3 linked regions of the Homo sapiens genome follow. The protein of the gene in region 3 interacts with the protein of the main gene of each other region in a biochemical or structural test. Each region holds a gene or a part of one and is shown on either strand. Other genes may lie near its edges. The genes, in order: FKBP1B, HOMER1 and RYR2.

Region 1 (3,752 bases), on a different chromosome or scaffold from region 3:
GAGATCTGTGTTCTGTCATCAGGAAAGGCTACTACATGCATCACACAAAATGCACAACCTGAAATGCTTCAATCTGCAACCGAAGTTTCCTCAAGCAAGAATTCGCATGAACACTGACGAACACATACAGAGCAACTTGGGCAGAGAGAATGGATGATGCCATGAGGCAGTGAGGTTAGCACACTGATCAAGAGCCCCAAAAGCAGGAGCCGTCCCAGTGGCAGAGCAGGCTAGGAGGGTGAGCAGCAGCCATCTCCAGCCACCTTGAGTTCCTTCCTGCCTTCACTCTAAGTTGAGCAGCTCCACGTCAAAGATGAGGGTGGCATTGGGAGGGATGACACCGGGGTGGCCCGTGGCTCCATATGCCACATCAGGGGTGCAGGTCAGCTTCGCCCTCTGCCCCAAGCTCATCTAGCAGGGATGGGGGCAGATGGGGAGAGGAGAAAGAGGACCCAGCTTGATTTAAAAGAAAAAAGTTAGATGACTATGGCATTTTCCCAAACCATCCTCAATGTTAACTCTGAAGATCTCAGATGAATTTTACATGGGATACATTGAAATCGTGCTAACAGCTTTAACAAACGCAGATTCTGCCTCAGCAGAGATGTGACTGTGGGGCAGTAACCCTCACAGAGTGGTCTCAAATTCATGCATCTGACAAACATTACTGGTTATTCAATTTGTGTATGACTGAAACACTTCCATTTGTTCATAGTTCACCCTCTTCCAAAGAATAGGCCTCTTTAGGAAAAGAGGGTGTATGAATAGCACACGTAAATACTCAAGTAGGTGACAGGGGCAGTTATTTAAAGTGGTTTAGAGACTAGAGTCACCAGCAAGGTGGCAAGGGGGACCTATTGTGGCCAACCGTGGTGGCTCACACCTGTAATCCCAGCACTTTTGGGAAGCCAAGGTGGGCAGATCACTTGAGTCCAGAAGTTCAAGACCAGCCTGGCTAATATGGCAAAACCCTGTCTCTACTAAAAAATACAAAAAGTCCGGGCGTGGTGGCTCACACCTGTAATCTCAGCACTTTGGGAGGCCGAGGCAGGTGGATCACCTGAGGTCAGGAGTTCGAGAGCAGCCTGGCAAACATGGTGAGACCCCGTCTGTACTAAAAATACAAAAATTAGCCAGGCGTGATGGTGATGGTGCACACCTGTAATCTCAGCTACTCGGGAGGCTGGGGCAGGAAAATTGCTTGAACCTGGGAGGAGGAGGTTGCAGTGAGCTGAGATTGTGCCACTGCACTCTAGCCTGGGCAACAGAGTGAGACTACGTCTCAAAATAAATAAATAAATAAAAAACAAAAAACAGGCCGGGCACGGTGGCTCGCACCACTTTGGGAGGCTGAGGCGGGCAGATCACGAGGTCAGGAGACCGAGACCATCTTGGCTAACAACGGTGAAACCCCGTCTCTACTAAAAATACAAAAAAATTAGCCGGCCGTGGTGGCGGGCGCCTGTAGTCCCAGCTACTAGGGAGGCTGAGGCAGAAGAATGGCGTGAACCCAGGACGCGGAGCTTGCAGTGAGCCAAGATTGCGCCACTGCAGTCCAGCCTTGGTGACAGAGTGATACTCTTTCTAAAAAAAAACACCAAAAACAAGACCTATCGTAAGGGAGCATCATAGGACTTCACAGACAGACCAAGAAAGAACAGCTTGAACCAGGGCTCATCACAGCAGTTGTTGAGAACCCACTCAGCATTAGTGGGACAATTGGTGAAATTTAAATCTACTTTTGAATTTTGAATAATCAAAAATTTGAATAAGTAAGTAATTTGTATCAGTGTGAATGTCCTGGTTTTGATAATTGTACTATGGTTATGCAAGAAGGGGAAGCTGGATAGAATATAGAAGAACTCTGTACTATTTCTTTAATATTTTTGTAATTCTGAAATTCTTTTCAAAAAAGCGAAAAAACGAAAAATTTTCTTGGCCTACTCCACCCCAACTCTTCCACTACCTCAGTCCCAGGCAACTGGTAGACCTCAGCTAGTTTATTTTTTTGTTTTGTTTTTTTGAGACAGTCTCACTCCATCGCCTGGGCTGGAGTACAGTGGCACAATCTCTGCTCACTGCAACCTTCACCTCCCCGGTTCAAGTAATTCTCCTGTCGCAGCCTCCCAAGTAGCTGGGATTACAGGCATGCACCACCACGCCTGTATTTTCAGCAGGGACGGGGTTACACCATGTTGGTGAGGCTAGTCTTGAACTCCTGGCCTCAACTGATCCACCCCATTCGGCCTCCCAAAGTGCTGGGATTACAGGTGTGAGCCACCGTGCCTGGCTCTCTCAGCTAGTTCTGAGCAAGCCTAGGGGGATGTGCTTGGGATGAGAGCCCCCAGGGACACAAAAGAGGTATGCTGGCAAGGAGAGGGGTGGGGACGCAAAGCCAGGAGGGGACACCAGATGGCGTTGCCATGCCCTGGCTGTAGAGTCAAAGCAGTAGTGGTCTGTGAGTGGGTGAAGGTGGAGGTGGAGGGCAGAGTGCTGATCCCAGATCCCCAACTCCCCAGATCCCCTTTAATGCGAATCCTCATCCTACCTGGGCTGCACCCTCTTCAAAACCTTTGATGACTTCCTGTTTGCCAATTCTGAACTTGAAAGGTTTGTTTCTGTCTCTGGATGAATCAAACTTCTTCCCATTTTGGAGCATTCCTGTCAAAGCAAGAATCGGGTGCAATAGAGCTGTGGTCATGAGTAAACTCCCAATTCAGATTCCACATGTCTAAAATGGAATGCCTTTTCTGCACACACCTGCTCCTCTTCCGATCCTCCCCATCCATCCTGTTGCCCAAGCAGGAAATCTGGACACTTCCTTCTGCCTCACCCCCACATACTGCCTATCACTAAGTCCTCCATATCTTTGGAATCCACCTATTTTCTTCATTTCTATTTTTATTTATTTATTTATTTATTTGAGACAGAATCTCAATTTGTCACCCAGGCTGGAGTGCAGTGGCACAATCTCGGCTCACTGCAACCTCCATCTCCTGGGTTCAATCGATTCTTCTGCCTCAGCCTCCCAGGTAGCTGGCATTACAGGCGCCCACCACCACACTCAGCTGATTTTTGTATTTTTAGTAGAAACAGGGTTTTGCCATATTGGCTAGGCTGGTCTTGAACTCCTGAACTGCAGGTGATCCACCCACCTTGGCCTCCCAAAGTGCTGGGATTACAAGCATGAGCCACTGTGCCTGGCCTTTTCTTTGTTTCTATTACCACGACCAAGTCACCAGCTTATCTCACCTGTACACAGGAACAACCTCCTAACTGGTCTTTTTGATCCTCTTTTACTCGCCTCCATTTCATTGTCCACTTGGCATCCAGACTGATTTTTTTTTTTCTTTAAACACAAATCTGATTCTATTACTCCCCTGCTCAAAATACTTCAATAGCTCCCCAGAGCAGAATCCAAATGCCTACCTTGCATACAGGCACTTCACAATCCGGCTCTGGCCTGCTTATAACCCTCTCTGTTCTCCCCTTCCTTCCCTTCCCTCTGTGTCCTTTTCAGGTCATACCTTTCTCAAATTCCTCTGCACTTTTCAACTTTTTTTTTTTTTTTTTTTTTTTTGAGTCGGAGTCTCCCTCTGTTGCCCAGGCTGGAGTGCAGTGGTGTGATCTCGGTTCACTGCAACCTCCGCCTCCCGGGTTCAAGGGATTCTCCTGCCTCAGCTTCCTGAGTAGCTGGGACTACAGGTACCTGCCACTATGCCTGCTAATTTTTTTATATTTTTAGTAGAGAT
Region 2 (3,752 bases), on a different chromosome or scaffold from region 3:
TTTCACTCTAATGTAAATTAATATGTATGTATTTACGTACATACACATACATAAAAAACAAAATTGTCTAGTATTGAGTAGCTGTTTATGAGTGAAAAAATGGTTACAAATTGGTTAATTAGCTTAATTTTGTACTTAACAATTCGATCATTTTGGGGTACAAACAAGAAGTCAGTGCATTTATAGACTCCATAGAGTCAGTTACTCAAGCATACACTTTAAAAAAGAACCCTCCTCAACATCACAGGCATTGTACAGCAAGAATATATGTACTCTGATGCAATTCCTACTTTATAAGCAGACTAGACAGCACTTGGCTTACTTTTAAAATAGCTTCGTAAAAGAAATATATCATATAAAGAAATGCATGTTTGCTAAAAGTCTTTTAAAATTACATCAAAACAACATTAAAACCTGTTCACTGAGAAGAGCCTATTGAATTTAATTCCTGTTTTGAAATACCTAGTTAACAATTCAGAATATTGCCTTGTGAGGTTTGAATCAAGATGTGATTGATGTGTAGAGCCAGATAGAGTACATGACTCCATCTCTATCTGCCACGATCACAATTTAGATAGAGTCCTCTGATCAGCTGTTTGATGTAAATGGACCCCCTTTAAAATAGCTATACACCTTAAAATTATCTATAATAAACAGTTCCCCAATAACCATTATTATTCGTAAATTGAAATGCATTGATCATTCAGAAAAGATTTCTTGCAAAATATATAAATAAATGTAACTGCATATTCTGTAAATATACTTAACATTGCTAGACCAGCCTGTCAATGACGGGCTGCTGTATTTCAGTACTGTGTGTCAAATTTATTAGAAACTTAAAAAGAAAAATTTCTGAGGGACTCAGCTGCCTTCGTTAGTTGGCTTTAAAATGTGTAATAAAATGGGAGACAATATCTTCTCATAAATACATGGAATCAATATGGAAAAGTAAACTATACAACAGACAAGATTAGAGAACACCAGAGTGTACCAGAGTAGTCACCAGAGTGAAATATCTTCCAGCACAAAAAAGGGAAGAACTCTATACACCCAGTTATAGTATATTTCAATTAAAGATACAGCTCTCTCTCACTCCTGGCAAGAATTAATTGGTAATGGCACTGCTTCTCAGCAGTGCAAAAATATCCTGAGAAATTATTCAGATTACAACAAAAGACAGGCTTTCATCACTAAGTTTTTGCACAAAACACAGCTCTAGATATCGTAAATAAATTAATTTAAAAAGCAGATAATCTTCACTGTGTTGAACACAAAAAGGGGATGTGACCTAGACATTGTTAATTCTCCCATTGGCTAATATCAGGAAAAAAGATTGCATTAAGTGTCTATTTATAACTTTCTAGTTAACTATGGCCAATAATATACATGGAGGTAATTTGTAGTTCAAGTTTTTCATCTTTTTTCCCCAACTAGCTACAAGCTGGATTCTAAAATTTACAGTGAAATATACAATTCCAATTTCAAAAGATCCTCCTCCTGGAGGAGTGATATTCAATTTTTTTTTTTTTTTTTTTGTGCAATCTTGATGCAGAGCCTAAACAGTCCTATGAAGAGAGACAGTGTATCTTTTAATTAATTGGCACTGAAATTTCACTTTCCTTAGCTGCATTCTAGTAGCTTGGCCAAGTTATCTCGTAATTCTGTTAGTTCAAATATCTTTCCATCCAGAATTTCTAAGAGTGTCTTCAGGTTATTGCGAAAAGCTTCTTGTTCATTCTGACTTTTCTCCAGACGTTGCTCTAAGTCAGACAGTTGTCCCTCCAGGTCTTTGTTCCGAATTTCTACTTCCTTCAGAAACAAAAGTGTAACATGTATATATGTCAATTCATCACTTAGAAAACAATACAACTCTCTGTTATTACCAATATTGCGGTAATCAATGCAGTTTGACTGTCAGGATGAGCTGCAGAATCTTAATTTAGCACAATTTAAGGAGATTTTAGACTTGGCCATCCCAGAGAGCAATACGATTTTAATGACTGGCTTGGTTATCAATCTATCTAACCACTCAACGAAAATCTACTGACTCATTACTTTGTGCCAGGCAACACTCTAGGTACTTCAAATACCAAGACAGGCTTGAAGACCTATTTATGGATCACTTAGATCTCATTTTTATTGCTGTCCACCTATTTCTCCTAATGCATAATTATTAGCAATCACAGGTGAAAGCAGGCAGAGAAAGAAAAAGAAATTAACTTTTTCTGTTTACTGGCAACTCTAGAGAAAGATTTAGACAAGAAAGTAACTCTCTAAAATGTGATTTTAGGATCCTCTGAATATGTTATTCTTTGCTTTGCCTCAATATCAAATAAATGTATATGTAGAGAGTATCACTCAATTGCTAGAAACTGTAGTGAAGATACATAATAACTGTACATATTAGAGAATTATAAGTTAACAGTTCCAATACATTGCAAACCAAGGGAAAAAAATGACAAAAGGAAATCAAATGTTCATGACAACAAAAAAAACACTAAATGATTTGTTTTTGACAGAATAAACTCTGGCACACTTAAAAATTATTTAGCAGTTATTACTGCTTTTGTTTTTTTGTTGTTGTTTCTTTTCTTTGAGACACAGTCTCACTCTGTCCCCCAGGATGGAGTGCAATGGTGCAATCTTGGCTCACTGCAACCTCCGCCTCCCAGGTTCAAGCCATTCTCCTGCCTCAGCCTCCCAAGTAGCTGGGATTACAGGCACACGCCACCACACCTGGCTAATTTTTATATTTTTAGTAGAGACGGGGTTTCACCATGTTGGCCAGGCCAGTCTTGAACTCTTGACCTCCAGTGATCCACCCGCCTCGGCCTCCAAATGTGCTAGGATTACAGGCGTGAGCCACCCCGCCTGGCCTATTACTGCTTTTAAAATTGTCTCTAAATGTGACAAATATAATAAAGTGAGTCTAAAAAAATAAAATGACATAAATCAAGCTAATGATTTCATTTTGGTTAAAAAAATCAGATTGAGAAAAATGGGAGAAAGCCAACTATTACACTTTAAATAAGCAATTCAGATAAGCAATGAATTGAAAGTTGTTATATATCCGTTCTGGAAAGCTCACTTTTACATTTGAGAGAAACTAAGTGACTGACACAATTTACATTAAGATATATAAACTATATGGGACAACGAAAATATCTTGATGTTAGTTACACAACATGATAGCCTCAGAAAATGAGATGTTTCAAAATGTTAATACATCCTTTAAATGTTAATCTCTAAAGGAATTCTATCAAGTCTAAAGGACAGTGGAAATTTTAAAAAAATTAGATCACTGAAAGACAATCTGGTAAATGTTAAATGAAAAGAACAGAATATAAAGTAGCTCACTGAAACTGGCAAAAATTCGTATGCATGAGGACAAACACTAGGAATTAATGTAGAAATAGGAAATAAAAAATAGTTCTGGTGTTGAAATTACAGACACTTTTTTCCAAAAATTTATTCTTCTCTCAAGTTGGATAAAGAATGAAAAAAAAATTAAGAACTAAATTTTTTTCACAATGTAAAAATTAAACTTTCAAGAAAAATAATTAGGGCAAGGCTCACGCCTTTAATCCCAGAACTCTGGGAGGCTGAATCACCTGAGGTCAGGAGGTCGAGACCAGCCTGGCCAACATGGCGAATCCCTTCGTCTCTACTAAAAATATAAAAATTAGCCAGGCGTGGTGGCAGGCACCTGTAATCTCAGCTACTCGGGAGACTGAGGCAGGAGAATGACTTGA
Region 3 (3,752 bases):
AAACAGTCATTAAGACACCGTAATTGTGAATTTGATGGGACATTTCATATGTCCTGATTAGAACATCTGGATTATTATCTTGAGCAGGTCATTGTCTATTGGATTTGTATTCAGCACCCCAGCACATTGAGGCATCTTTTTGACCACTGTCCACAGAAAGCTTTTTTGCTTTTCTTTTTTTAGAAGAGGTGTGAGATCACTGTTAAGGGAAGTAGAGGTGAAATCTTTAATGGGCTGTATCTGTGAGTTATGTATGCTGCTGTAAATTAATTCCTCATTTGCAAAGGGGTTTGTCACTGTTTAGCTTGTACCTGTCTCTCTGGCATCTCTGTTCCATTTGCTGCTGCTTGTCGAGTTGGCTCACATTCCTTCCAAATAGTTATGTAGATGAATGATCATTGATTCAGTGGCTCCCCCATCTGTTGGAAACCTGCCCACTTGGGTCTGTTTATCTTTGAGAGAGATTGAAAATATGTTTTTGTAAACTCTGGATATGCTGGGACACTTATTTTATGAGAGAAAAATCCTATCATAAAATAAGCTGTCAGCTTGTAATGGATTCATTCACTGTCATATCCAAACATATCCATGATTTGGAATGTGTGTTTTATTTTAAAGATTTTATTAACTTACCAATGTAGCATCAAACTGTCATTTGGCATTTAAAAACACGCATCTTTTTCGTTATGGTCCTCTTTTTTTTTTTTTTTCCAACAATCATACAGAATGTTATAGAAGATATTCCTCTGACTTTAGGAAAACCATGGTATAAAATGACCTTGGTCAAGGTTTTTTTTTTTTTTTTTTTTTTTTTTGAGTACTTTGTCTTTCTTTCATTTGTCTAAGCACAGTTGAGTTACCCTTGTGGTGTACTGTGTCATGTAGTTTTGTATTTACCCATAGATTGAGACTTAAAGCTTAGTCCTGGCTGTAAGAATGATCCTGATAGGAATGCTTACGGTCTTCCTCCTGTCTTCTTTTGCAGAATGAAGTATTTCATTATAGATTTCTTCTCAGTGTTCATACATCTTGTTCCACAATGACAAGAAGCATCTTTAAATATACTCATCTACAAATGGTGACAATTATGCAGTATAGATGCTGGTGTACAACACTGCATAGTAGTTTGGATGGGAATACTTAGCCCTAGTTTGTAGAGGTCCAGGAAGGTTAATGGTATGAAGTCAGTACTCAGCAGTGCAGAACGAGGACTAAAATTCAAATCTTAGGCTAATAGTGTTCTTTCCAGGAGAGAAAGGCTTCTTTATCTGCTGTTCAAGTATGTTTTAGGTTTATAGCAAAAGAATACCAAGTCAGTTTTCTCAGCTGTAGGAATGTCACAGAGTACAAAGGAAAAGATGGAATGAGCAGTGGAAATTCGCACTTTTTGCTCCCTTCATAATGAAGCTACGAGGAGCTTTAGATAGATATGCACTATGGTATTTTCCCAAGGAACTGATGGAAAGCCCACCCAGGCTTACATCATCAGACTTATTTTATTTTAACTTAGAAATTAGCATGTACACATTGGCAGGAAGGGCAAGATCTAAAACGCTTAGGGCACTAATTTATTTGACATTCAATTGTATTTGTACTTTGGCTTCAGATAAGTGTTTTTATCACGGCTGAATTACCCAAGAAAGGACTCCAGCAGCACTGGGTGACTGTGCTTCTTTAGATAGCTTTCGGGAGAGAGGGAGAGGTGATGAAGCACACATTTTTCCTGAAACTCTGACATTGTGGGAATTAGATTAATTCAGAAAACATTTGTTGAACACCGTCTGTATGCATAGCATGTTAAGGAAGTATTCCAAATAAGTAGGGAAGTGGTTTGCAGCTGTAATTGCAAAGAATAGATATAGAGGATGGCATGGAGCAATCAGAAGGAAAAATGCATAAACAAACTCCAAAACATTAGGGTAGGAAGAGGCCTTTAGAAAACATTACCCTGTCCACCCCATGCCTCTCTGATATTGCAGATAAGGAAACAAAAGCTCAGAAAGCCAAATGACTTGGCCCAGTGTCACACTCCAAGTTAGTGGCATTTAGTAATGGAGAGTATATGAAAATCTGTGAAGAATTTCCAGAAAGGAGGTTTACCAGCACATCATTCTTTATAGAGTAGATTTAAACCCACTTTTCCATTTTATCCTTAACTTGACCTTCATAGAGTTCTGTCTCCAAATCTGTCCTCTTGTCCTTCCAGCCAGTGAAAAGGAGGTTTCTTTTGTCTTTTCTAATGTTACAGTCCCTCACATGGCCTGAATCTTGGTCCTGGAAGCCAAGATTGGAATCCATCCTTTCTAGCCTTTTTTTTTTTTTTTTTGCCTCCCTATCCACTTACTCCTTCTGGTTTATCTTGAAGCCTGTTAATTTCTCCCATCTTAAAATGTCTGTCTTTGACCCGGATACCTTATTTGGTTGCTCCCCTCCTGCAGAAGTGGTCTTCTCCCACTGCTTGTACCCCTCTCCATGTAATTATCTAGCTTCTCTTCCTTCTTCAATTTACTTTCCAGGATGTTGCCAGTAACTCCCTCCTTGCCACGTCTAAATGTCCCTCTCTGTCCCTATTCCCTTAGATTCCTTCTCAAGCTCTACTACCCTGACTTTCCTTTTTGAAGCTACTCTTTTGACTTTGGGGACATGGTACCTTCTGGGTAATTTTTTACATTTCTGATCATGCTTTTTCCAGGTGCTTTTCATTCCTTTTACTCCAAGTGTGTGGTTATCCCAAAAGATTCTGTCCTATTTCCTGTTCTGGCTCTTCTGCCTTCATGAGCTTATCTATGTCACAAAATCTGGGATCTCTTGAATAACAGAGTCTGAAAAGACTTAACAATGACTTCATCCAGCTCTGAGAGCCAGAGAGATGAAAGGAATGTTCCCAAAGCGACTCTTTTTTGTAGGAGAAACCCACCGTAGATTCGACAGCCCTGGGCCTTCACTTCAAGCCTCTGTTTAGACTTCCCTCTTGCCTCTCGGACCCCAGAAACACCAGCTTGACATCATTGCCTGTTCGGTTCCCTAAGCGACTTTCCTTCCTAGTGTCTCTGCTGATCAGTGGCACTGCCGTTTGTGGCTGTGGCTCCAGTGTGATCCTAACCTTCAGAAGACCTGAGTCTGAGGCCGGAATCCACCAGCACCTAGCTTTACGGACTTAGAACAACAGTGCCTGGCTCATGGGAGTGGCTCAATGCATTTGTCTAGTTCTCTTTCTTCTCTTCTGCATCTAATTTGTCATCATAGCCCATCGTGTTTCTCTTTGCAATCCAACTCAGATTTCGATGTGTTTCATACTCCGTTAGCTTCTTGTTCTGATCCCAGTACTCATTTCAACCTTCGTCATCCTTCCTCCTGCAACAAATCGGCAACCCACCTAGAATCCGCCTGCCATTTTAGTCCTCCTGAAACCCTCGTGTCCATCTCCCAGCCTCAGCTCACATCCTTGCATATCCTGTCTAATTTCTCTACTTGGCCTTTTATGATCTGCCCCTTGATACCTTGCTTATGCTTTTCATCCTACACAGAGTTTTCTTGGATCACTCTAACCAATTCCGATTTTACCTTTCTCCGACCATTTATCACTAATAATTAATAAAATGTATGGAACTGATTGGGAAACTCAAGCAATGGTCAGAGAATGCTCTGACCCTGATGCTCTGTGGGTGAGTTGGGACCGTGTTGGGCATCGGTTTCCCATGATGCTTGGTGCACTGTTAACTACAAGGACAGACTTGAGAGAAATCTTGTGG

What was found.
Region 1: the proteins of RYR2 (region 3) and FKBP1B form a complex in vitro, tested with the Homo sapiens proteins (one study listed by BioGRID).
Region 2: the proteins of RYR2 (region 3) and HOMER1 form a complex in vitro, tested with the Homo sapiens proteins (one study listed by BioGRID).

The regions. Positions count from the first base shown.
Region 1 is NC_000002.12:24,059,723-24,063,474, reverse strand, and holds part of FKBP1B (peptidyl-prolyl cis-trans isomerase FKBP1B), read right to left. Parts: intron 2,662-3,752; coding exon 2,549-2,661; intron 457-2,548; coding exon of another isoform or gene 412-456; coding exon 283-411; 3' UTR 1-282. UniProt on the Homo sapiens protein: Has the potential to contribute to the immunosuppressive and toxic effects of FK506 and rapamycin. PPIases accelerate the folding of proteins. It catalyzes the cis-trans isomerization of proline imidic peptide bonds in oligopeptides.
Region 2 is NC_000005.10:79,374,389-79,378,140, forward strand, and holds part of HOMER1 (homer protein homolog 1), read right to left. Parts: intron 1,810-3,752; coding exon 1,621-1,809; 3' UTR 1-1,620. UniProt on the Homo sapiens protein: Postsynaptic density scaffolding protein. Binds and cross-links cytoplasmic regions of GRM1, GRM5, ITPR1, DNM3, RYR1, RYR2, SHANK1 and SHANK3.
Region 3 is NC_000001.11:237,045,081-237,048,832, forward strand, and holds part of RYR2 (ryanodine receptor 2), read left to right. Parts: intron 1-3,752. UniProt on the Homo sapiens protein: Cytosolic calcium-activated calcium channel that mediates the release of Ca(2+) from the sarcoplasmic reticulum into the cytosol and thereby plays a key role in triggering cardiac muscle contraction. Aberrant channel activation can lead to cardiac arrhythmia.